Homo sapiens: one gene and its partners. The gene in region 3 interacts genetically with the main gene of each other region. Each region holds a gene or a part of one and is shown on either strand. Other genes may lie near its edges. The genes, in order: PGD, GATB, MRPL19 and MTRES1.

What was found.
Region 1: changes in MRPL19 (region 3) and PGD together harm fitness more than expected from each alone (negative genetic interaction), as found in Homo sapiens cells (one large-scale study listed by BioGRID).
Region 2: changes in MRPL19 (region 3) and GATB together harm fitness less than expected from each alone (positive genetic interaction), as found in Homo sapiens cells (one large-scale study listed by BioGRID).
Region 4: changes in MRPL19 (region 3) and MTRES1 together harm fitness more than expected from each alone (negative genetic interaction), as found in Homo sapiens cells (one large-scale study listed by BioGRID).

What each region holds. Positions count from the first base shown.
Region 1 is NC_000001.11:10,414,850-10,419,850, reverse strand, and holds part of PGD (6-phosphogluconate dehydrogenase, decarboxylating), read right to left. Parts: intron 2,865-5,001; coding exon 2,734-2,864; intron 2,476-2,733; coding exon 2,342-2,475; intron 1,026-2,341; coding exon 926-1,025; intron 435-925; coding exon 312-434; intron 222-311; coding exon 102-221; 3' UTR 1-101. UniProt on the Homo sapiens protein: Catalyzes the oxidative decarboxylation of 6-phosphogluconate to ribulose 5-phosphate and CO(2), with concomitant reduction of NADP to NADPH.
Region 2 is NC_000004.12:151,753,101-151,759,127, forward strand, and holds part of GATB (glutamyl-tRNA(Gln) amidotransferase subunit B, mitochondrial isoform 1 precursor), read right to left. Parts: intron 5,823-6,027; coding exon 5,672-5,822; intron 1-5,671. UniProt on the Homo sapiens protein: Allows the formation of correctly charged Gln-tRNA(Gln) through the transamidation of misacylated Glu-tRNA(Gln) in the mitochondria. The reaction takes place in the presence of glutamine and ATP through an activated gamma-phospho-Glu-tRNA(Gln).
Region 3 is NC_000002.12:75,648,301-75,654,327, forward strand, and holds part of MRPL19 (large ribosomal subunit protein bL19m), read left to right. Parts: intron 1-2,008; exon of another isoform or gene 2,009-3,348; intron 3,349-3,841; coding exon 3,842-3,960; intron 3,961-4,222; coding exon 4,223-4,357; intron 4,358-6,027.
Region 4 is NC_000006.12:107,025,655-107,032,253, reverse strand, and holds the start of MTRES1 (mitochondrial transcription rescue factor 1), read right to left. Parts: upstream 4,056-6,599; 5' UTR 3,983-4,055; exon of another isoform or gene 3,408-3,982; coding exon of another isoform or gene 3,330-3,407; intron 2,245-3,329; exon of another isoform or gene 2,150-2,244; coding exon of another isoform or gene 2,147-2,149; intron 1-2,146. UniProt on the Homo sapiens protein: Mitochondrial RNA-binding protein involved in mitochondrial transcription regulation. Functions as a protective factor to maintain proper mitochondrial RNA level during stress.

The DNA of each region.
Region 1 (5,001 bases), on a different chromosome or scaffold from region 3:
AAACTGAACAGAAAATAGGGCAAAGGGCCAGGTGGCAGTGCCATGAGGCACATGGAATGTCCTGGTCTGTGGAATCGTGGAGGGTGACAGGAGCAGCATGATCAGGCATTGTATGACGAGGATGACACGGTGCCACCATGGCCTGTCCAGTTGGTGTGGATAAACTGCCCTGGTTTGGCCAAGAGTTCATAGGTGTGAGCCCCGAAGTAATCCCGCTGAGCCTAGGAAACGAGAGAGTAGGTTGGTCAGGACAGTCCATGGCGCACGCCCCCGAGGGGCCAGCCAGGTTAATCCCTGCTCCACAGGCTTACCTGGATGAGGCTGGCTGGAAGCATCTCATGTCTGTACCCGTCATAGAAGGAGAGGGCAGTGGTAAAACAGGGCATGGGAATGCCAGCCTGGACCCCAGTGCTGACTGCCCGCCGCCAGGAGTCCTGAGCACAAAACGCACGGCCAGAGATTAGTGATCTGCCCCTGGTGACGCGGATAGATTTTCATTCATATCAATGTGGGTAAATGAAAAACTGATGGTTAGGCCAGGCGCGGTGGCTCACGCCTGTCATCCCAGCACTTTGGAAGGCTGAGGTGGGCGGATCACGAGGTCAGGAGTTCAAGACCAGTCTAGCCAACATGGTGAAACCCCATCTCTACTAAAAATACAAAAAAAAAAAAAAAATTAGCCAGGTATGTTGGCACACCTGTAGTCCCAGCTACTTAGGAAGGCTGGGGCAGGAGAATCGCTTGAACCCAGGAGGCGGAGGTTGCAGTGAGCCAAGATCATGCCACTGTACTCCAGCCTGGGTGACAGAGCGAGACTCTGTCTCAAAAAAACAAAAAACCAAAAAAAAAAAACAAAAAACCAAACATCACAACTGATGGCCCCAGGGAGGTAGAGTAACCATGGCACCAGCCCTAGGCTACATACCTGGCAGTTTTCAACAGCTGACTTAAAGAAGTCGTCCAGTAGGAGGTTCTGAAGTTCCGGGTTTCGATCAAATGCATCCTTTATCTTTCCTAGGAATACACTGAAATAATCAAGGGGGGAAAAAAGCAATGAGTCTTTTTTTTTTTTTTTTTGAGACGGAGTCCCGCTTTGTCACCAGGCTGGAGTGGAGTGGCACGATCTCAGCTCACAGCAACCTCCACCTCCCAGGTTCAAGCGATTCTCCTGCCTCAGCCTCGCCAGTAGCTGGGATTACAGGCACGCACCACTACAACCGGCTAATTTTTGTATTTTTAGTAGAGACAGGGTTTCACCGTGTTAGCCAGGATGGTCTGGATCTCCTGACCTCGTGATCCGCCTGCCTCGGCCTCCCAAAACGCTGGGATTACAGGTGTGAGCCACCGCGCCCGGCCAAATGCAATGAATCTTAACTCTAACAGGGAAGTAAGCTGGAAGCCGATGTATACCCTAGTGAAACAAAGTTACATTTCTCATTTCTTCAAGCTGTTAACCCTTTTCCTGTTTAGAAAAAAAGTGCAGCTCGCTGCCAGCGCTCATTTAATTTTACATAAACACGCTTTTTGAGGCTGAAGAAAATCTGACGATTTTCAATATGAAAATAAAATATAAAAACTATTCTTGGCGTTATTTCTAAAGAGAACTAATATTAGAATCATCTGAATCACCAGAATCATCTACTTCAGAAAAATCAGATTCATCAAATGAATCTTCAGCCAACATGAGAACGATGTAACGTCATGTGTAGAAATGCTACGTTTTCTATGATTTGGCATTTTCAATGAAAATACAGAGCAAAATTCCCAAGAGGCAAGGCCAGAGGGCACGATAGTTCACAGAAGTACTTTAAAAGGTGTAGTGTAGTAGGTGTAATGCGGAGCCGGGCGCAGTGGCTCACGCCTGTAATCCCAGCACTTTGGGAGGCTGAGGCGGGCAGATCACCCAAGGCAAGGAGTTCGAGACCAGCCTGGCTAACATGGTGAAACCCTGTTTCCACTACAAATACAAAAGAATTAGCCGGACATGGTGGCGTGCCCTTGTAATCCCAGTTACTTAGGACGCTGAGGCAGGAGAATCACTTGAACCCGGGAGGCAGAGGTTGCAGTGAGTCAAGATCGCATCATGGCACTCCAGTTTGGGCAATAAGAGCGAAACTTGGTCTCAAAAGAAAAAAAAAGGTGTAGTGTGGACAATCTAGTTACAGCAACTGAGGTACAGTGAAGAAGGGAACCACATAATCTAAGCCTATCTTGTGCCAGTGTCCAGTGATGGGGCTAAGTGCCCATCCCTGGAAACTGCTCAAGCTAAGTGTCCTAAGATCGCACTTCTGCACAGCCGTGTGAGTCCTTCCCGTCGGACCCTGGGCTGCCTCTCACTTACCTTCTAATGATGCAGCCCCCTCTCCACATCAGGGCGATGCCACCATAATTGAGAGTCCAGCCAAACTCGGTGGCTGCCTGCCTTAGCAGCATAAAGCCTTGAGCGTAAGAGATGATCTTGGAAGCGTAGAGTGCCTAAAGAGTGACACAGAGACCTACTAGGATTGCCATTAGGAGAGTGACCGCCTTATGTCTACCAGTCTTATTCTCATCAGCAGTGGAGATCCCAGAAGGGCCAATATTCTAGGAAAACATTGTAAGTCAAGATCCAAGTCAAGGCTGAACTTCATTCCACCTGCCATCCTGTGGCCTCGAGTGTTCTCCCACCACAACCCCCACCCCCACTGCCTTCCGCAGGACCAACAAAGACCACTGCCAGGGACTGTGTCCCACCTTCCGAATGTCCTCCAGGAATGATTTCTTATCACCATCAAACTGGAACTTCTGGGGACCCTTCAGCTTTTTGCTAGCTTGAATTCTCTCATCCTTCAGAGATGATAAGCACCGAGCAAAGACAGCTTCTCCTACATGGGGAGATCGGGAAGAGGAAACAGATTACTGTCAGGCCTCTGAGCCCAAGCTAAACTATCATATCCCCTGTGACCTGCATGTATACATCCAGATGGCCTGAAGCAAGTGAAGAATCACAAAAGAAGTGAAAATGGCTGGTTCCTGCCTTTACTGATGACATTCCACCATTGTGATTTGTTCCTGCCCCACCTTAACTGAGCGATTAACCTTGTGACATTCCTTCTCCTGGCTCAGAACCTCCCCAACTGAGCACCTTGTGACCCCTCGGCCCTGCCCGTAAGAGAAAAACCCCCTTTGACTGTAATTTTCCACTACCTGCCCAAATCCTATAAAATGGCCCCACCCCTATCTCCCTTCGCTGACTCTTCGGACTCAACCTGCCTGCACCCAGGTGATTAAAAAGCTTTATTGCTCACACAAAGCCTGTTTGGTGGTCTTTTCACACGGATGCGCATGAAAATTACCAAAGTTCGCACAGCAACCAGAAGAAAGGTGGAGCAGGAAAGTCTGTTTATACAAAGAGCTGAAAGTTTCAACCTTAGGCCACAAAAGTTGACATGGATCGGAAGGAACTTTTATAAGAAGCTCTAAACAGTTAATTTGATAACTAAAACTCTTAAGACAATCTTCCAATACAAACATGAGTATTCAATCACAAAGATTAACATGAAATTCAAAAGGGAGTTTTGAGGGAAAATGAAGAGATAGAAACCACTGTTATGGCTGGGCAAGGTGGCTAACACCTGTAATCCCAGCACTTTGGCAGGCTGAGGTGGGAGGATCACTTGAGCCCAGGAGTTCAAGGCTACAGTGAGCCATGATCACACCACTGCTCTCCAGCCTGGGCAACACAGTGAGACCCTGTCTCTAAAACCAGTAAAATAAAATAAAAACCACTGTTATGTAGAATACTCAGTGTTGGTCCATGAGTAAAATTTCAAATTCAATTTAGAGGACCTTAATTTTTTTTTTTGAAGATTTTACATTGATAAGTCACATTTACGGACTCACCTCTCAAAAAAATGTTAGGTTTTTATATTTTACGGTTTTCAGTATAGCCGTAATCATTCAAGTTTAACCACTTTACTTCATTTGAATTAAAAAGTCAATGTAGTATTTTAATATTAAGACATTTAGTATTTTCAGAAAGTATTCCTTATAAAAGACTTGCTCAACTGACAACTTATAGTTAGAATAAATGACTCTTTAACCACTTTTTCCCCCATAGACAAAATGAAGTAAAATCTCAGGGAACTAACAGAGGACTTTATTTCTGAGGAAAGAGGAGCAGCTATGGCTTGAGACTGCTAACCCTACTCCAAACACACAAAAGCAGCTACCTCTCTCCTGGCCCAAATGCACACACAGGATGACTTAGCATTTCTAGAAGGAAGCTTTGTAAGATGACTGGTGCAACAGGCTATGAGGCAAACCCTTCCTGTTAGAGGGGGAGAGGGCAGCTGGAAGACTTCCCTGTTAGTTCACAAATAATGATGGCTCCCAGCAGGGGGTGGGCCCAGCCACCCTGGGGGAAGAGGTATATGGATCCACAGGAGGAGAGTAGGATTCTGAGATCCTAATACTTACACATATACTTGAGTCCGTGATGAATAAATTGCTCCTAGCTATTGGCCCCTCCCTCCTCACCTATGTTATGGCTCAGATCGGCTAAAAGCAGCCAACTTCCTTCTATACAGCACGGAACTGTAGAAACCACCGACTTTCCTCCTTACTCTGCCTTACACCACACAGTTCAATAGGGCGAGGCACAATGAACAGGGAGGTCAAAAGGGGAGAAGAGTCAAGGGAGAGAAAGGCAACCTGTATCCAGAGGAGCAAACAGGAAAAATTCTGTTTTATTATTTTTGAGATGCTTCTTTTTTTTTTTTTAGGCGGAGTCTTGCTCGGTCGCCCAGCCTGGAGTGCAGTGGTGCGATCTCAGCCCACTGCAAATTCCGCCTCCCAGGTTCAAGTGATTCTCCTGCCTCAGCCTCCTGAGTAGCTGGGATTACAGGCACGGGTCACTATGCCTGGCTAACTTTCGTATTTTTAGTAGAGATGGGGTTTCGCCATGTTGGTCAGGCTGGACTCAAACTCCTGACCTCGTGATCCGCCCACCTCGGTCACCCA
Region 2 (6,027 bases), on a different chromosome or scaffold from region 3:
AAGAACTGGGTAGGTCCTGGAGTTCACTACAGATGCTGTCTGATACCGCCTTTTGCTCTGACTGGTGGCCTCAGGGAAAGTGTGTCATGAGCTGAATTTCTCCAAAGACTATACATTCCTATGGGGGTAGGGCAGCTGCAGAGGGTCAGGTAGAGAAGCTCAGATCTCACTGCACTGTACTCAGACTCTGACTCAACCCCTTTGTTTTCACCTCAGCCAGCCTTCCACAATACTTGACGCCCCCACATCCTGAGCGTTTTTAAGGTTGTGTAGGACACATCATCTCAGTTCTCGCTAGTGTCCCTTCCTGCAGGCACTTAGGTCACAGTGCATCCTCTGCAAAGTGAGGCCCTCCTCCACCTACCATCTCTCTCTCACACACTCTTGTCTCCTCTCCCATTCTTTTGTAGGCTTATCACATTTGCATTCTTTCACTATGATTTCAGTGGGGTTTCTCTGGGTTACAGAGAGGATGGATTAAAATGCATGTGTTCAGTTGATCATATTAATCAAAAGCCTCTCCTGTCTTTACCCCTTCTTCATTGGCTCCTTCTCATCAGCATTTTTAAAAAATTTTGTTTTATTGCAGTAAGAACACTTAACATGAGATCTATCCTCTTAAACACATTTTAAGTGTACACTATCATAGACTACATAACTCATCAGCATTTAAACATTCCCAAGTCTCTCCAATATTAAGAAAGACATGACCAATAAATGTTTTCTCTTGATTCTATGTCTCCTTTCACTTGCTGCATTCTGTTGTCCTTCATAGTAAAACTTTTTGAAACAGTTGCCCACACTCACTTCTTCCTCCATGCCATGACATTTCTCAATCCACTGCCACCTACCTTCTGTTTCCATCACCCCACTCAAACTGTTCTTGCAAAGGATACCCTTCTTAATAAATCCAATGGGCACTTCCTAGTCCTCACTTTACTTGACCTCTCAGTAGCATCCAATGTTCTTGTACTCCCTCCTTCTCAAAACACTCACTTCCTTGGAGTTTCTGGCCCTGCACTCTCCTTACGTCTTCTTACCTCTTTGCAAATGGGATCCACACCCTTTATCAGGGCTTATATGGTACAGGCTATGCTTTCTGCTCTAGCCTCACCTCTTGCAATGCCCATATTCAAATTCTATGCTACAACACATGGAAAACGTTTCAGTTTCTAGAGCAAGCCACGTTGTTTTTCTTCTGGTCTTTGTACATCCTATTCACTTTCTACTTGGCCAATTTCATCAATTCCTTATATCTGTGTTGAATACTCTTCCTATGTGCTCCTCAAGCACCTTGTATTTCCACGACTAACATGTTTATTAAAAGGTAGTGCAACTGCCTGCTTGCTTGTTCATGCTCCATGTGGGCAACACCCATATCTATCGTCTACCAAGTTCAAAACTGTGTCACTAGAGCTACACAAGGGCTAGCATAACGTGGGCATCCAATATATGCCAGCTGAGTGAATGAAGACACAACCGACAGAGAAGAAGAATGAAATGTCTACAGAAAGACTATACATTATAACAATTGTTTTAAGTGACAATCCTAATTTTTTACTAAATCAAGAGCCAATACCATGTTGAACCAAAGAAACACTCCAAATAACTACAGATGGAAAAAAAAAAGCTCATAAGCCTTCTTTTTCGCAATAAAAGTAATGATTTCTAATTCAGAAATAATTTTATCCATATACTAGTTTTTACTGGTTTTCATTATTTACTTAATTCTCTATACATCTCTGAGGTGATGAGATACCCAGGTTAGTTTTTGTTGGCAGATCACTTAACTGGTGAAATCAAGGTTAAGTGACCAATTGTTATGTGTAGCATTTACTTTTGCTCTCACTGGCAACGTAACTGTGCACAATAACTCAGGAGAGCCTTTGTAAAGATAAAAGCCACCAATCATTATGGGTATGCTAGCAGGTAAGATTTACCTTACCTATTATTAAGAGCTTTTTAATTAATTACCTGTTATTACTTGTTAATTATCTGTTAATTAATAAGAGCACTTACTACATGCAATTACTGTTTTAAGTGTTTTAAAGGTACTGATTCATTTAATTCTCACACAAATCCAATGAGTCAATTATCTCCATTTTATAAGAAACTGATGCAAAGAAGATTAAGTAATCTACATGAAAATTCTATTCATCTCACTAGAATTTTTATCTTTAGCATTGTCCTATGTCACTAAAAGTCTATTATAAACATTATCAGTGGCTTCATAATGTTGTACTGTACTGATGTATTATAATTTACTCAATGATTCCCCCATCACTGAGAAACTGTGGTTACTTCCAATTTTCTACCTTTAAAAATAGATCTGCTATAGACATCTCTGCATATAAGTCTTTGCCCACATGTTTATTTTCCAAGGACAGATTCCTAAAAGAATTACTACGTCAATAAACATGTTGGGCGAATAAAGTAGTCAAATTGCCATTTTGCCTAATTAGCTGTTTTTTCTTGCTTTTATGCCTACAAAGTTTCTCCCCAACCCAAGGACAAACAAATATTCTCCTAGATATTTCTGGATTTAATTTGACATTTAACTTATATTATATATATATGAACTTTGTTTTGATGTGTGAAATGAGCGATACTTTTTCTCCAAATAGCTAACCAATTCCAAAACCATCAGTTAAATAACTTATCCTTTTCCCACTGATTTTTGCTTCTTCTTACATATATTTTCCCTTGTTGGTTTATTCTTTCGTCAGGAGGCAGTGAAACTTTGGGGAGAAAAGATAACAGGCTTAACACTGTAACTGCTGAATTTAAGATGTTTATGAATCATTCAGATGGAAATATATAGTAGGACACAATAGATATAGGTTTCTTGCCTAAAAGAGAGAGGGGAGCTTTATTTGAGGGTAAAAAGATTACTCAGGGGAACACAGGTAACAGAAGAATTGAGAGCCAAAGAATAGGGCATGGGAAACCAACATTTCAGGGCTGAGTGGCAGAACACAGCCATGTGAGAAGGCACAATCAGCCAGGTAGAGGGCGGGGAAGAAGCAGGAGAGAAGGGAGCAATATAAGCCCTGCGCAGAAAGAGTTTCAAGTATCATCATGAATCACACTTACACTTTGGTTTACTTGACCAAAACAATAACATAATGTTCTACTAAAATCCTCGGAAGCACAAACATATTCTCAAATTATTGGTTTCTTATGAATGGAGTTATAAGCAGAGTCTGGCTATCAGAGCATGTTTATACATCTCCATAGGGCTTAGGGGAAGGACAACTGTCTAAAGGTTTTAGTGTATTTTAAATCTATTTAGAGGTAAATCAAAAGATTTTGAAATGTTTTGAATGGCAATGCTTAATTCTGGGAGTTTGGGTATAATGTTGCTCACGTACAAAATGAGGTCCCTTAAAGGCAGAAACATTTCTGAAGAAGAGGTAGATCTCCTCTGTCTACAGAATAACCCATCTAGGCTACTTAAACCATAAGCGTTGTAGGCTCTGAAGAGGAAAACAAATCCTAGCTCATACAAAACTGTATTTCCAGACTTTGTCTGCCATTTAATTAATGTAAGCCAAGCTCTCAACACTCAAATGTCCCAAACACCTTCACTGTGTTATTGATATGCTTATCAGTGAACAAGCACCTTCTTTTTTGGTGCATGACAAGTTTTACAAAGCAATTAAAATGTTGGCATTTTAATTATTTTGAATTTTTCTAATTTGGTCTAATTTTTGACCAAATTTAGGTACAGCTGGAGAGTCTATATACAGAAAACATGCTTATCTGCAAATGGACCTGTTTCTAAAGTGAACTGTAATAAGTATGGCCTGATAGCCATCACATTCACAGCTGGAAAAACCTAGGATGAACTCAGAGCTTATGCCTAATCTCTTGATAATTAACTACAACATGGGAAAAAAATGTTTTGAATCTGGAAGGGAAAATGTAGAGGTGTTATGACAACTTGCCTTCCATTTTACAATAAATATTATTGTATCTCTACTATATCTGAATCTCTGCCCAAAAAAGATGTCATATATTTATAACCAAAATATTCACTCTTCTCAAATAAACAAAAAATCTTTCCATAGATAGATCTCTAAGTCAGAGAGAGAGAAAGAGGGCACACCTCCACATCTATCTTCTCCCAGAGGGACCCAGCAGCAAATCAAAGGTGATCCTTGATATGGTCTGCAGGGAAGGGAGTCCTCCATGACAGAAAATGCGATAAGAGAAAAGTTCCAAGACAAAGATGCTGCCCCAATACAACCAAAGCTGAGTGAGGCAGGCATACTGGAGGCACTGCCCAGAATCTTCCACTTTGGTCAGTGACTGAGAAAAGTATACCTCTGCAAGCCTGCCAGTGCTCAGTTCAACCAGCTTCCAGATTTTTTTTTTTTTTTTTTTTTTTGAGATGGAGTCTCGCTCTGTCGCCCAGGCTGGAGTGCAGTGGCGCGATCTCAGCTCACTGCAAGCTCTGCCTCCCAGGTTCACGCCATTCTCCTGCCTCAGCCTCCCCAGTAACTGGGACTACAGGAGCCCACCACCATGCCCGGCTAATTTTTTGCAGTTTACTATTAGTAGAGATGGGGTTTCACCGTGTTAGCCAGGATGGTCTCGATCTCCTGACCTTGTGATTCGCCCACCTTGGCCTTCCAAAGTGCTGGGATTACAGGCGTGAGCCACCGCGCCCGGCCTCAACCAGCTTCCACTCTTATTTAAATGTTTGAGAGCATGGAATTTACCCATGACAATGTCTGCCTCTCCCCACCTTTGTCACCACCATGGATACACATTTCCTCCAAAGATGGCAGGAAACCCCAAACACAGTTGATATTATAGGTCCTGGACAGACCATATGCTATTTATTAGCTAAAACATTTACTTGTTCCCTTCATACTTTTCTTAAAAATTCAACCAATTATATAAAAATATATGCCAAAAGTCTTGCTGATGAGTATACTGGGCCCAGTCATTCCATAGGATCAAGTAAAAATGAGTGGTTAAGTGAGTACAATAGTTAACTCACTGCATATTATGGCTGTTTTCTACATTATTGAGTGTTTCTTAATTTGCAATAACCACAATCATTACTGGCCTTACACTGTAAAATCATGTAATATACACTGCTTGCTTTGAGTTGACTCCTCCTCCTCCTTCATTTATCTGCCTAAATTTTATTGGGCTTCTCAAATAGCTCAGGCCACCACCTCTTCAGTAACCCTTCCTTAACCTAAAGTACCCCTACTTCAATTTCTCACAACAGTCCTTTCTTTTACTGAATTAGTTGTCCCTCCTCTGGGTTTCGAAATCATCCTCTGCATATTACCTTCAAAGAAGGAATCACACTGTTCTCTGTTTGTTTATAAGACACATCTCCCCTACTAGTTTTTGAACTCCTTAAAGGCAAGGATCATCTTTATGACCCAGCTCAAAGCCCAATGTCTGGTATTAGTAGACATGCTAAAATGTTTGTGAAGTGATGAATACATGTATGAATATATTCAGACTTAGAAACAGCATCACAGAGATGGGTCTTCAGAAAACATTTAATATATCCCGCTTCACCCAAAACTCCCTAAATAAGTATTTCCAAAGAGTTGTGTTATTATTAAAACAAGAAAATAATTTTCCATGTTCAATATAAAATAAACATTTTTCTAATGAAAATAGGATTAAATAAGAATCTTACCGGCAAAGTTCCAGGTAGAGATGCATCAAAAAAAGAAACCAAAGAATTTGGAGGTGCTGAAAAGCGAACTTGAGATCCAGAGAAGAGTTTAGAGTTGGAGGAAATCTGGGCATGAATTTCCAAACCTACCACAGCAGCCCATTTGTGTTCACTAAGAAGAAAGAGATAATGGTTAAGATGTATTATATTTGTCACCATGAATGAATTTCTATAAGTCTAAACCACAAATGTTAATTTCCTATATGTGTTTTAAACTTAATACAATGTTATATCCTCACATTAAAAATGTGTCATATTTTATCAGTGACTAAATAAAAAACAATTTAGAATAAGCGCCTACACTGAGATTGGCAAAC
Region 3 (6,027 bases):
CACACAACTTAAACTCCTAACGTGTATGTACAAGGAGACAAGCACGAGAATGAATGTAACAGTATTTTTTGTAACAAAATTTAGAGGCAGCCTAGATATCCATCAGTAGGTGAACAGGCAAATACATTCATATGACAGAATATTGTATAGCAGTGAAAAATGAGTGAATTAGAGCTCACTTTTAAACATGGAAGATTTTCACAAATCTGTGTGTAAAAAAAACCTTTAGAATCATTAATGTAGTAGGATGCTATTTTTATGAAGTTTTAAAACTATAGGCCGGGTGCGGTGGCTCACGACTGTTATCCCAGCACTTTGGGAGGCCGAGGAGGGCAGATCACGAAGTCAGGAGTTCGAGACCAGCCTGGCCAACATGGCGAAACCCCCATTTCTACTAAAAGTACAAAAAAAAAAAAAAATTAGCCAGGTGTGGTGGCATGTGCCTATAATCCCAGTTACTCGAGAGGCTGAGGCAGAAGAATTGCTTGAACACAGGATGCCGAGGTTGCAGTGAGCCGAGATCGTGCCACTGCACTCCAGCCTGGGCGATAGAGCAAGACTCTGTCTCAGAAAAAAACAAAAACAAAATTATACGAAACAATATATGTTGCCCAGACATACATGCATATGAAAAGTAAAAAGAAATGTAAGGGGGGCCTTCTGAAACTTTGCCAAACAGTCAAACCTAACTTTACCAGTATTGGTACCAGTTGATATTATGTGTCTCCTGATGTGACAGAATAAGTTGTTCACATCATCTCCCTGTAATATTCTTACTAAAATTATTTAACCTTAGTCTAGGCATGTGGAAACAATCCAGAATCCAGAGATGAGATAGTAGGCCTTGACTGTTCAAAAAAGTTAATGTTATAAAAATACAAAGTTGGAAAAAAGTCCTAGTCTGAGAGACTAATGACCAAATATGTGTGAAGCTTGATTGTATTTTGAATTGGGCAACGAATAGATGTAAAATACCTTCCCAGGATAATGACATACATTTGAGTATGAACTCTGTATTAGACCAAGCTTGTCCAACCCACAGCCCAGGACAGCTTTAAATGTGGCCCAACACAAATCTGTAAACTTTCTTAAAACATATGAGATTTTTTTTGTGCCTTTTTTTTTTAAGCTTACCAGCTATTGTTGGTGTCTTTTATGTGTGGCTCAAGATAATTCCTCCAGTGTGTCCCAGGGAAGCCAGATGATTGGATACCTTTGTATTAGATTATGTTATCAAATTAATGCTGACTTTTATAGGTGTCAGAAGGGTATCGTGATAATATAGGAGCAAGTCCTTATTCTTAGCATAAGCCTTCTAAATTATTGAGGGATGAAATGCCTTGCTGTTCCATTTTTTTGAGACAGAGCCTTGCTTTGTCATCCAGGCTGGAGTGCAGTGGCATGATCTTGGCTCTGCAACTCCTACTCCTGGGCCCCTCCCTACTCAGTCTCCCAAGTGGCTGGGACTACAGGTGCCCGCCACCATGCCTGGCTATTTTAAAAATTTTTTTGTTGTAGAATGAGGTCTCACTATGTTGCCTAGGCTGGTCTGGAACTCCTGGGCTCAAACGATCTACCCTCCTCGGCCTCCCAAGTGTTGGGATAACAGACGTAAGCTACCACACCTGGCTGACATTTTCAAATGGTTCAGAAAAAAATGATATGTGTATATAAAGCAAATATAGCAAAATTTTAGCAGTTGGTAAAAGTGGATGAAAGATCTACAGGTGTTCATTGTATTACTATTTTTTGGTAGGCTTTAAAATTTTCAAAGTAGAAAATTGAGGAAGAGAAAGAAATTCATGGGAATAATCACCAAATTTAGGATAGTAATGAACTATCCTAAATACACAGGGGCTTCCACAATATTGATAATTTATTTCTTGAGGTGGGTGGTAAAGACATGAATATTCATTGTACTGTCATTTATACTTTTTATGTAGATTAAATATTTCATAATGAGCTTAAAATCAGTTAAAGAAGAAAAAAAGAAGATTATTATTTTTTAAGCAAAAGGATTTCACCTTTGTAAGACTTACACAATTTTCACATAGCTTCATTTCTACAATCACAACAATCCTGAGGTAAACAGGCAGGGTCTAATCATTCTCTTTTTACAGAGGGAGAACCAGCAACTTAGGGAAATCAAAACGGGGACACTAACAGGATTTCTGTGGAAATTTAAGTAAATGAGAATTTATGGTGAATTTTTTATTCTAAAACGAATACCTCACCTTGGCCAAAATGGGACATTACCCAAGGTCCCCTACTAGGCCAGAGGAGAAAAGGAAGGACTTACCTCCTACAGAGGCACAAACAAGGCAGACTAGGACCCAGCAGTTGCCTAAGGCCCAAGGGTCTCCAGTTAGGAGAATGTGAAATGCAGGGATGTGAGACTGGCCTAAGGTATAGGAAGAGCGGTAAACAGAAGAGAAGAGACGAGGAGGGGGAAAAGCAAGAATTATTAAACGTGGTCAAGGAGCGAAGAGCACTATGAAGCCTCAGGATTTCTTCAAGGGATACTGCTGTGCCAGGTCTAGAGGGCAGAAAGATACAACCACGAGACCCCAGGACTACCAAGCTGATGGGATTACCTAGCCTCTGGACAGCACCTTCTGATTGGAAGCAAGGAAGCACACTAGAAAGGCTGCAGTACAGAAGGCTCAGAGACAGTCAGTAGGGAGTAGAAGGGCCTCTGCTGTTCTGGGAAGATTCTTACAGCATAAACAAGCTCTTACTGTGCCTAAGAGAAAGGGAGAGGGAGGCAAGGAATGTATCATGGCCTTAAGAACTTTCTAGAGGTTCATATTTATTGGCATTTGACCTAGAGTCCTTGCCATGGGCAAGGTGCATCCCTGGGCCATGGATAGGAAAATCAGCATCCTACTTTCTCTTCAGTTCGATCTGTTAATCCACCAACCCAAATCCCTCCCACCCGCACCTGTCATCCAAGGAAGAGAAAATGGTTCAGGGACACGATGTGCTGCAGCTGTGTCTCTGGATTTGTAGGTCTCTCCTCGACTTTTCAGCTCCTACACGATTCCTTGGGGCAGGTGACCAGTGAATGACACCGCATATGTACCTGGCTTAAAGTTACTGACTCGCTGCCACTTGGAGACCTAGCTGTCCTCTGGACTCATCATTGCAATGATTCCATCAAAGGAAGAGCTAGTGCAGTCATATACCATCTCAGTTACTCTTCGTCTGTAGATAGGTGTTACAGTTGTCAGAACCTTCATATTCAAACTGGTCTATAGTCTTGACCAGCAAACACAGCCAACAAGCCTGCAGATGCCCCAGGTCCTTCAGCACCATCTCCAGGGCCATCTTCTCTGATCAGGAAGATCATTTTAAAAGTCAATTTATAATTAGTGATTTATATGTTGATGTCTTTTCTGACATAATTTATTATAGCATGTATAGCTCAGTGTGAGGCCTGTAGTAATGGTTATAGGCTTTGGAGACTGACCAACATACCTACATTTAAATCTTGATTTGACAGATTTATAGCTAATGTAGCAATGGGTTAGTTATTTACCTTTTTCAAGCTTCAGTTTCTTGCTCTGTAAAAAGGAGATGACACCAAACCCACATGGTTGCTAGAAGGATTAATTTATGCTATAGATGTTTCATAAAGCTTTTAACAAAATACCAGGTGAGTACTCAGGAATTGTTAGCTATTTTCATGAGCATTAACAATTTTAGAAATAAGATTGACTTTTATTTAGACAATGAAGAATAAAATACATCAATATCATATTTAATTTCTTTGAAAAGCAACAATTTTTCTTCTAGCAGCCTTTTGAGTTTACTTTTAATTATTTATTTGTATTTTTTACAGGTTCTTGAGTCCTGAATTCATTCCTCGAAGGGGAAGAACAGATCCTCTGAAATTTCAAATAGAAAGAAAAGATATGTTAGAAAGGAGAAAAGTACTCCACATTCCAGAGTTCTATGTTGGTCAGTAAGAGCTGTATGTTTTTATTATTAGTAATTAGGATGGCTAGTTTGTGATTGGATGGTTAGTTTTCTTAAAAAGCAAAAGAAGATTGTTTTTTACATATCTGGGTTATGCTCATATGAAGTATTTATTCCTACATTAAAACATTTAGGAAGTTAAGTTATCTAGAAATGCTATTTGTTTGTTTCTGCATCTTATATAAAGTTTACTTCTCAGCTGGGTGTGCTGAAAAAAAAGTTCACTTCTCTTTTGAATTTGTAGGAAGTATTCTTCGTGTTACTACAGCTGACCCATATGCCAGTGGAAAAATCAGCCAGTTTCTGGGGATTTGCATTCAGAGATCAGGAAGAGGACTTGGAGCTACTTTCATCCTTAGGAATGTTATCGAAGGACAAGGTAAGTTTTATTTCATCATTTTCATTGTCTAGAAAATGTTATCTCAGGATTCCTTTTTGTTTCTGCATCCTGGGATAAGAAATCTGAAATTTGAAAGTAAAAGGAGACTCTGAGGGAAGATGTGGAGCCTGTGGCTTTAGAATGGATTGAGATTTGAAGTTAATGATTAAATATGGTTGATGGACTTCTTTCTCTTGAAGGCTTCTTATGTTATTGGAACAACAGTCATTAGAAGTAGACTTTGCAAACCATGGCAACATCAAAGAGGGGAATAAATTACTATAAAGCAGTATGGGGATATTTGTTTTAGGAGCAAATAACCCATGAGTAAAACTTTAAGACAAACCTTTAATGTCTTCATGAATTACTTGCTCCTAAAATGAATACCCACATTTTACTTTATGTTATGACACAAAACAAAATTATCACTGTCTTATATGACTTGGGAGGAATTTTAAAAAGGCAAAATTGTGTTTATATACTATGCCTAATAGAGGAACAAGGAGTAAAACTCTAGCAAGATTATTAATTAAAATGGCAGGAACAATTACGTTTATCAAGTTGTGTGCTTCATGAAGTTCCAACAACAAAGTATTCTTATTTTCAAAGAAATTGAAAATGTGAAAGCAGTTGCTGTCTTGCTTATTCTGTAATGACAGTGGGCTGTGCGTGCAGGAATTCAGCAGGACTTAATTGATTTGTGCCTTCAATCTGGTCAAATACTTGGAGAGGCCTTGTAATAGAAGTAAATGAGCATAGGAGTGAGTCATTTGATTTTCTTTAAGCATTAAGATAGTAATAGTTTCTACTCTACATGGTTCTAGCCAATCAACTGTGAGATACTGTATTTGAAGTACTGGACACAGAATACTCAAAAAGGATTAGCTCCCTCTTGCCATTCTCTGTAGTATGTCTGACTGTTGTAACCTGCCTCAACCTTCCCCATCACTGCTTCCTGCATTAGTGTTTCCTTCTTGTTCGGTGGCTTTGTATACCATCTGTATAATGATAACTTCCAAATTTATAACTCCAGGACTGACCCTTTTTAAGTTCCAGATTTGCAACTATCTGCAACTATCTGATCAACACTCTATTTGGATGTCTTACCAGCATAAGTTGAAAGCAGAACTCTTTATTTCCCCTTGCAAGGTGTTCCATTCACAGTCTTTTCTATTTCCATAAATGGTACCACTCTGCCTACCCACTTACTTTCACACATGCAGTCAATCAAGTTTTCTTGGCACAGTCTCCAAAAAATATATCACAATTTTGCCTGTTCTTCCCTCTACATTGCTATCACCCTCATCCATGTCACCATCATCTGCTTGCATTTGTGCAGTCTCTCTGGTTTACATTTCTGGTGGCTTATTCTGTTCGTGCTGTTGTAACAAAATGCTACAGGCTGGGTAATTTAGAAAGAACAGAAATTTATTTCTCACAGTTCGGGAGGCTGGGAAATCTAAGTTCAAGGTGCTGGCAGGTTTTGTATTTGGTGAGGCCTCCTTCCCTGCATCCAAGATGGTGCCTTGTTGCTGTGTGCTCTGGAAGGGCCAAGCACTGTGCCCTCACATGGTGAAAGGTGGAAGGGCAAAAGGCAAAACTAGTTCTCTCCATCCCTTTAATCCACTAATCCTTAATCAAAGGAGCTTCTAACCAAAGTTGGAACTTAA
Region 4 (6,599 bases), on a different chromosome or scaffold from region 3:
AAATGAATCAACGTGGGGGTGGCTATAGTAAAGGAGAGGATGCTGTTACTTTTGTCTCATTCAAAAGCAAGCAATTACACAAACCTCTTGCCTCCACTCCTCCCCAGCTACCACCTCTTTTCTTGCTCCTCTTTACCATAAAACTTCTCAAAACAGTTGTCTAACTCTCCTCAATTCCACTCCTTTCATTTTCTAAATCCAAAAGGTCATGTTAGTCCTCATCTTAATTGACTCCTCAGCAGCACTTGAAAAAACCGATCACGCCTCTCTTCTTCACTTGGTCGCCAAGACACCTTACTCTTGGTTTTCTTCCTGTCTCTCCTGTGGCTGCTGCTTCTCAAGACTCCTCTGCTGGCCGGACACGGTGGCTCATGCCTGTAATCCCAGCACTTTGGGAGGCCGAGGTGGGTGGATCACCTGAGGTCGGGAGTTCGAGACCAGCCTGACCAACATGGAGAAACCCTGTCTCTACTACTAATACAAAAATTAGCTGAATGTGGTGGCACGTGCCTGTAATCCCAGCTACTCAGTAGGATGAGGCACGAGAACCGCTTGAACCCGGGAGGCAGAGGTTGCAGTGAGCTGAGATTGCGCCATTGCACTCCAGCCTGGACAACAAGAGTGAGACGTCTCAAAAAAAAAAAATAGCTGGGCACGATGGCAGGCATCTGTAATCCTAGCTACTCAGGAGGTTGAGGCAGGAGAATCACTTGAACCTGGGAGGCGGAGGCTGCAGTGAGCCGAAGCCATTGCACTCCAGCCTGGGCAACAGGAGCGAAACTCTATCTCAAAAAAAAAAAAAAGAAAAGACTCCTTTGCTGCCTCCTTCTCTTCTCCTTTTTTCTTTTTTTTTCTTTTTTTTTTTTTTGAGACAGGGTCTTCCTCTGTTGCCCAGGCTGGAATGCAGTGGGTGGCGCGATCTTGGCTCACTGCAACCTCTGCCTCCCCAGTTCAAGCCATAGTCTCCCACCTCAGCCTCCAGAGTAGCTGGGATTACAGGCGCCCACCACCACACCCGGCCACTTTTTATATTTTTAGTAGACACAGGGTTTCACCACCTTGGCCAGGCTGGTCTGGAAATCCTGACCTCAAGTGACCCGCCCACCTCAGCCTCCCAAAGTGCTAGGATTACAGGCCTGAGCCACTGTGCCCGGCCCTCCCTGATATCTTAAAGTTGGAGCGGCCCAGGGCTCTATCTTTGGTCCTCTTCTCTTCTACATTCACTTTATCCAGCTCAGCTCTTAAATGTACCCAATTAGTTCTTACAAATGCATTATCAAGACATCAATCATTTCTGTGGCTTTAAATACCACCTATATGCCAACCACACCCTAATCTATATCCCCATTCCAGAACTTTCTCCCAAATTCCAGACTCGTACATCTGTGCAGAAACGAGTTAACATAACAGGCCTGAGACTGCTATCCTTAGAATGCCTGCTTGCAAAGTTGGCCCTTGGCTAGTGTCTCAGAACTTGAACTTCACGAGGGTTCCCACAATTCCCACCTGGATAAGAGTGGCTCACTGTGCTGGAAACTGTACAATGTGATTCTAAACACCTGCTTTTTTTCTGGGCGGCGGAAATTTTGGCACATTCTAGGCAGACAGTGCCTATGTGACTTTTTATTGGAAAAATGAGCTCTACAAGCTTTCCTGATAGATCTCTCACGTCTTGTCATAATTTGATGCTGCAAGAATTAAGCATACCCCATGTGACTCCACTAGGAGAGGACTCTTAGAAGACTGCACCGGGTTTCCTCCAGACTGTGTCCCATGCATCTTTTCCCTTTGCTTATTTTGCTTTGTATCCTTTTGCTATAATAAATCACAGCTGTGAGTATGACTACGTGCTGAGTCTTTTGAGTCCTCTTAGTGAATCAATGAACCTGGGGACCTGCAACACAATAGCTGCCTATTTGACACCTCCACGTGGGCACATAATAAAGTCATTCATACGATGTCACTCCTTTCCTCAAATCCCTACCAAAGCACTCAGAGAACAGCAAAGTCTCTACGATGGTCTAAAGGCTCTATAGGATCTGGTGCTCCCTCAACCCCCATTTCCTCTCCAACCTCATCTGCCAATTTGACTCTTGCAAATTCAGCTTCAGCAACACTGGCATCCTCCCCTTAATTAAGCACTTACCATGTGCCAAGCACTAATCTGGGCACTAGGAATTCAGCAGAGGAAAAAAATACGAAGATTCCTATTCTTGTAGAGTTTATAGTCTAGTAGGGGAAACAGGTAGACAAAAAAAAAAACACCCTGTAAATTATATGATAGCTGGTGGTTAATGCACTGGGGGAAGAAAGTGGAGCAGGGTAAGGGGGATTGAGAGGGCAAGATGAGGTCAGGCAGGTGGCTCACGCCTATAATCCCAGCACTTTGGGAGGCCAAGGCAGGAGACTCGCTTGTGTCCAAGAGTTTGAGATCAGCCTGGGCAACACAGTGAGATCTAAAATAAAAATAGTATGGGCGCGGTGGCTCATGCCTGTAATTCCAGTACTTGGGGAGGCTGAGGCGGGCGGATCACTTGAGGCCAGGAGTTCAAGACCAGCCTGGTCAACATGGTGAAACCTCGTCTCTACTAAAAATACAAAAATTAGCCAAGCGTGGTGGTGCACACCTGTAGTCACAGCTATTTGGGAGGCTGAGGCTGAAGAATCGCTTGAACCTGGGAGGGGGAGGCTGCAGTGAGCCGAGTTCACACCAGTGCATTCTAGCCTCGGCGACAGAGCGAGTGTCAAAAAAAAAAACAACAAAACAGGCCGGGCGCGGTGGCTCACGCCTGTAATCCCAGCACTGTCGGAGGCTTAGGCGTGCGGATCAGGAAGTCAGGAAATCGAGACCATCCTGGCTAACACGGTGAAACCCCGTCTCTACTAAAAATACAAAAAATTAGCCGGGCGTGGTGGCAGGCGCCTGTAGTCCCAGCTACTCGGGAGGCTGAGGCGGGAGAATGGCGTGAACCCGGGAGGCGGAGCTTGCAGTGAGCAGAGATCGCGCCACTGCACTCCAGCCTGGGCGACAGAGCGAGACTGCGTCTCAAAAAAAAAAAAAATAGCCGGGTGTGGCGGTGTGCGCCTGTAGTCCCAGCTGCTGGGGAGGCTGAGGCAGGAGAATGGCGTGAACCTGGGAGGCGGAGCTTGCAGTGAGCCGAGATCCCGCCATTGCACTCCAGCCTGGGCGACAGAGCAAGACTCCGTCTCAAAAAAACAAAACAAAACAAAACAAAACAACACCCTGTGGAATAAAAATTGATCAGGAGGACGGGTGCATTCGAATGAATCAGGAAAAGAACACGCAATGATGGACCCTGGGAAGTGACCTGATGGAAGTTCATTTTAAAAGATCTCTTTGGCGTTGGTGTGGGATGAGTGGAGAGATGATCACGGCAGAATCCCATAGGAGGTTTTGGGTGACATCTTCAGGAGAGGTATACAATCTGAACTAACCGAAGACTGTAAGAAAAGCAGTGTCTGTAAAAAAAGCAGCGCTGACTTTGACCTGCTTGACGCCAGGAAACGCTCCACATTCCTGAGCCCGTTCACCGCTCCGTAAGATGGAGAAACTGGTCTAAACGCTTTGAAGTCTAATGCAGCTAAAGATCCTTCCCTTTACTTGGAGACCTCGGAGGCTGTGGGCTGAGACAGGGTCGGATTCCTCTCGCTCCCTCCCCACCCCCGCGGGCAGTGCACCTTCCTGGGTCCCCAAGGTCAAAGGAAATGGACAACTGCGTCCCCGGGTTCGCAGTCTGCATTCGGAGCCAGCAGGAGCGACAGGAGGCAGGAACGGAAGGCTTCGCCGCGCTCAATTACCACAGTCCCTGCGCAGCCCTGAGCTCGCGGGGCGTCCCGAGGCTGGCAGGACACGGGACACTCACGGGGAGACCCGGCGGGAGCGTGGGCGGGGCGGAGAGGCGAAGTGACAGGGGGCGCGGGCAGGGGGCCCGGCGCGGCGCGCCAGCAGAGGCGCACTCACCTGTACGTCAGGCCCTCTCGTCCCTCCCCGCGGCCGCGCGGACTGCAGGCCTCCAGGCTACCCCTATCTGCGCCCCGCCCCTTCCGCCGGCGCCGGCGCAGTGAGAGCGGGTCGGGCGGGGCGCGAGGCCAGGGCGGCAGCGAAGCAGCGACCCCTGCTGGAGGCCGCGTCTTGGAGGACTGCGCGGGAAGTAGGCTCGGGGCACACCATTCTCCCGGGTTCACGCCATTCTCCTGCCTCAGCCTCCTGAGTAGCTGGGACTACAGGCGCCCACCACCACGCCCGGCTAATTTTTTTGTGTTTTTAGCAGAGACAGGGTTTCACCGTTTTAGCCAGGATGGTCTCGATCTCCCGCCCTCGTGATCCGCTCTCCTCGGCCTCCCAAAGTGCTGGGATTACAGGCGTGAGCCACCGCGCCCGGCCATCTTAATTCTTTTTTCTTTTTTTTTTTTTTTTGAAACCGAGTCTCACTCTTGCCCAGGCTGGAGTGCAGCGGCGTAATCTCAGCTCACTGCGACCTCCGCCTCCCGGGTTCAAGCGATTGTCGTTCCTCAGTCTCCTAAGTAGCTGGGACTACAGGCGTGAGCCACCATGACCGGCTAATCATCTTAATTATTAATGAAGTGATCCTTTCTCTGGGACCACTAACCCCTTTGAACATTTTTTTTTTTGACAGGGTCTCACTCTGTTGCCCGGAGTGCAATGGTGCGATCTCGGCTCACTGCAACCTCTGCTACCCAGGCTCAAGCTGTTCTCCCCACCTCAGCCTCCCCAGTACCTGGGACTCCAGGTGTGTGCCACCACGGCCTGCTAATTTTTGTTTTGTTTTGTTTTGTTTGTAGAGATGGGGTTTCGCCATATTGCCCAGGCTGGGACTCAAGAGAAGCGATCTTCCAGCCTCAGCCTCTTAAAGTGCTGGGATTACAGGTGTAAGCCACCGAGCCCGCCCTCTTTGAACATCTCCAAGAGATATAGGCGTTGTTTCCAGAAAAATGTGCAAATACGTCAGACTCGCAGTTTAAGGAAACATCTTTTCAAGACCAACGCAATTTACACGTGAGCCAATTCCCCTTTCCCTCCCAACCAACTATCCATCCATTCGTCCATCCATCCATCCATCCATCCATCCATCCCTCTCTCATTAGGTCTGTCTGTGGAGAACTCTGACTCATACACCAAACAAGATGTCACCCTGCAACATTCTAACAAAACTTCTAGTCAAAGTCACAGATGACCTCTGCAATGTAAATCCAAAGGTCTGGTCTCATTCCTCAACTTACTTGAGTTATAGGATACCCCATTGGTTTCACCTACCTCACTTGCCACTTAATCTTCTTCCCTGTTTTTTCTTTTGTTTTGTTTTGTTTTTTTGTTTTTGAGAATGAGGCCTGCTCTGGCCCCCAGGCTGGTGTGCAATGGCATGATCTCTGCTCACTGCAACCTTCACTCTCGGGTTCAAGCGATTCTCCTGCCTCAGCCTCCTTAGTAGTTGGGACTACAGGTACGCACCACCATGCCCGGCTAATTTTTGTAGTTTTAATAGAGACAGGGTTTCACCAATATTGGCCAGGCTTGTCTCAAACTCCTGACCTCAAGTGATCCACCTGCCTTGGCATCTCAAAGTGCTGGGATTACAGGCATGAGCCACCACTCCCAGCCAGCTGTTTTTTCATTACATCCTTAGAATGCCAAAGAGTAAGTGCCCCATACTTAGACCTCTAATCTTTTTCCTTTTTATCTATCCTAGTTCCCCAGTCGATCTCCAACAATTTCGTGGCTTTAAATATTATCTATATATGGACGATCCTCAAATTTGTATTGCGAGCCGAGATCATTCTCTTGCATTCAAGACTACAACTGCCTACTTAACATCTTCACTTGGAAATCTAACGGAAATCTCAAACTTGATAGGACCAAAACCCAGATCCGGGTCTCAATGCGTTCCTCCCACAGCATTCCTTATTTCAGTTAATGAGTCTTCCACCCTTCCTGTTACTTAGGTCAGATATCTTAGAGATACACTCAATTTCTCCCTTTCTGTCTCACCTGGGATTAGAGGCGTGCACCACCACACCTAGCTAATTTTTGTATTTTTAGTAGAGATGGGGTTTTACCATGTTGGTCAGGCTGGTCTCAAACTCCTGACCTCAGGTCATCCACCGCCTCAGCCTCCCAAAGTTCTGGGATTATAGGTGTGAGCCACCACGCCTGGCGGCTTACCTTTCTTCAGGCTATCCTCAGGACAATAACCAGAGTGATCCTATTAAATCACAAATCAAATCCTGTCATTACTTAAAATCCTCCTGGGCTGGGCGCGGTGGCTTATACCTGTAACTCCAACACCTTGGGAGGCCGAGGCGGGCAGATCATGAGGTCATGAGTTTGAGACCCGCCTGACCAACATAGTGAAACCCTTTCTCTACTAAAAATACAAAAATTAGCCGGGCGTGGTGGTGTGCGCCTGTAATCCCAGCTACTCAGGAGGCTGAGGCAGGAGAATAACTTGAACCTGGGAGGCGGAGGTTGCATTGAGCCGAGATCGCGCCACTGCACTCCAGCCTGGGTGACAGAGCGAGACTCCATCTCAAACAAACAAACAAACAAACAAACAAAAAAC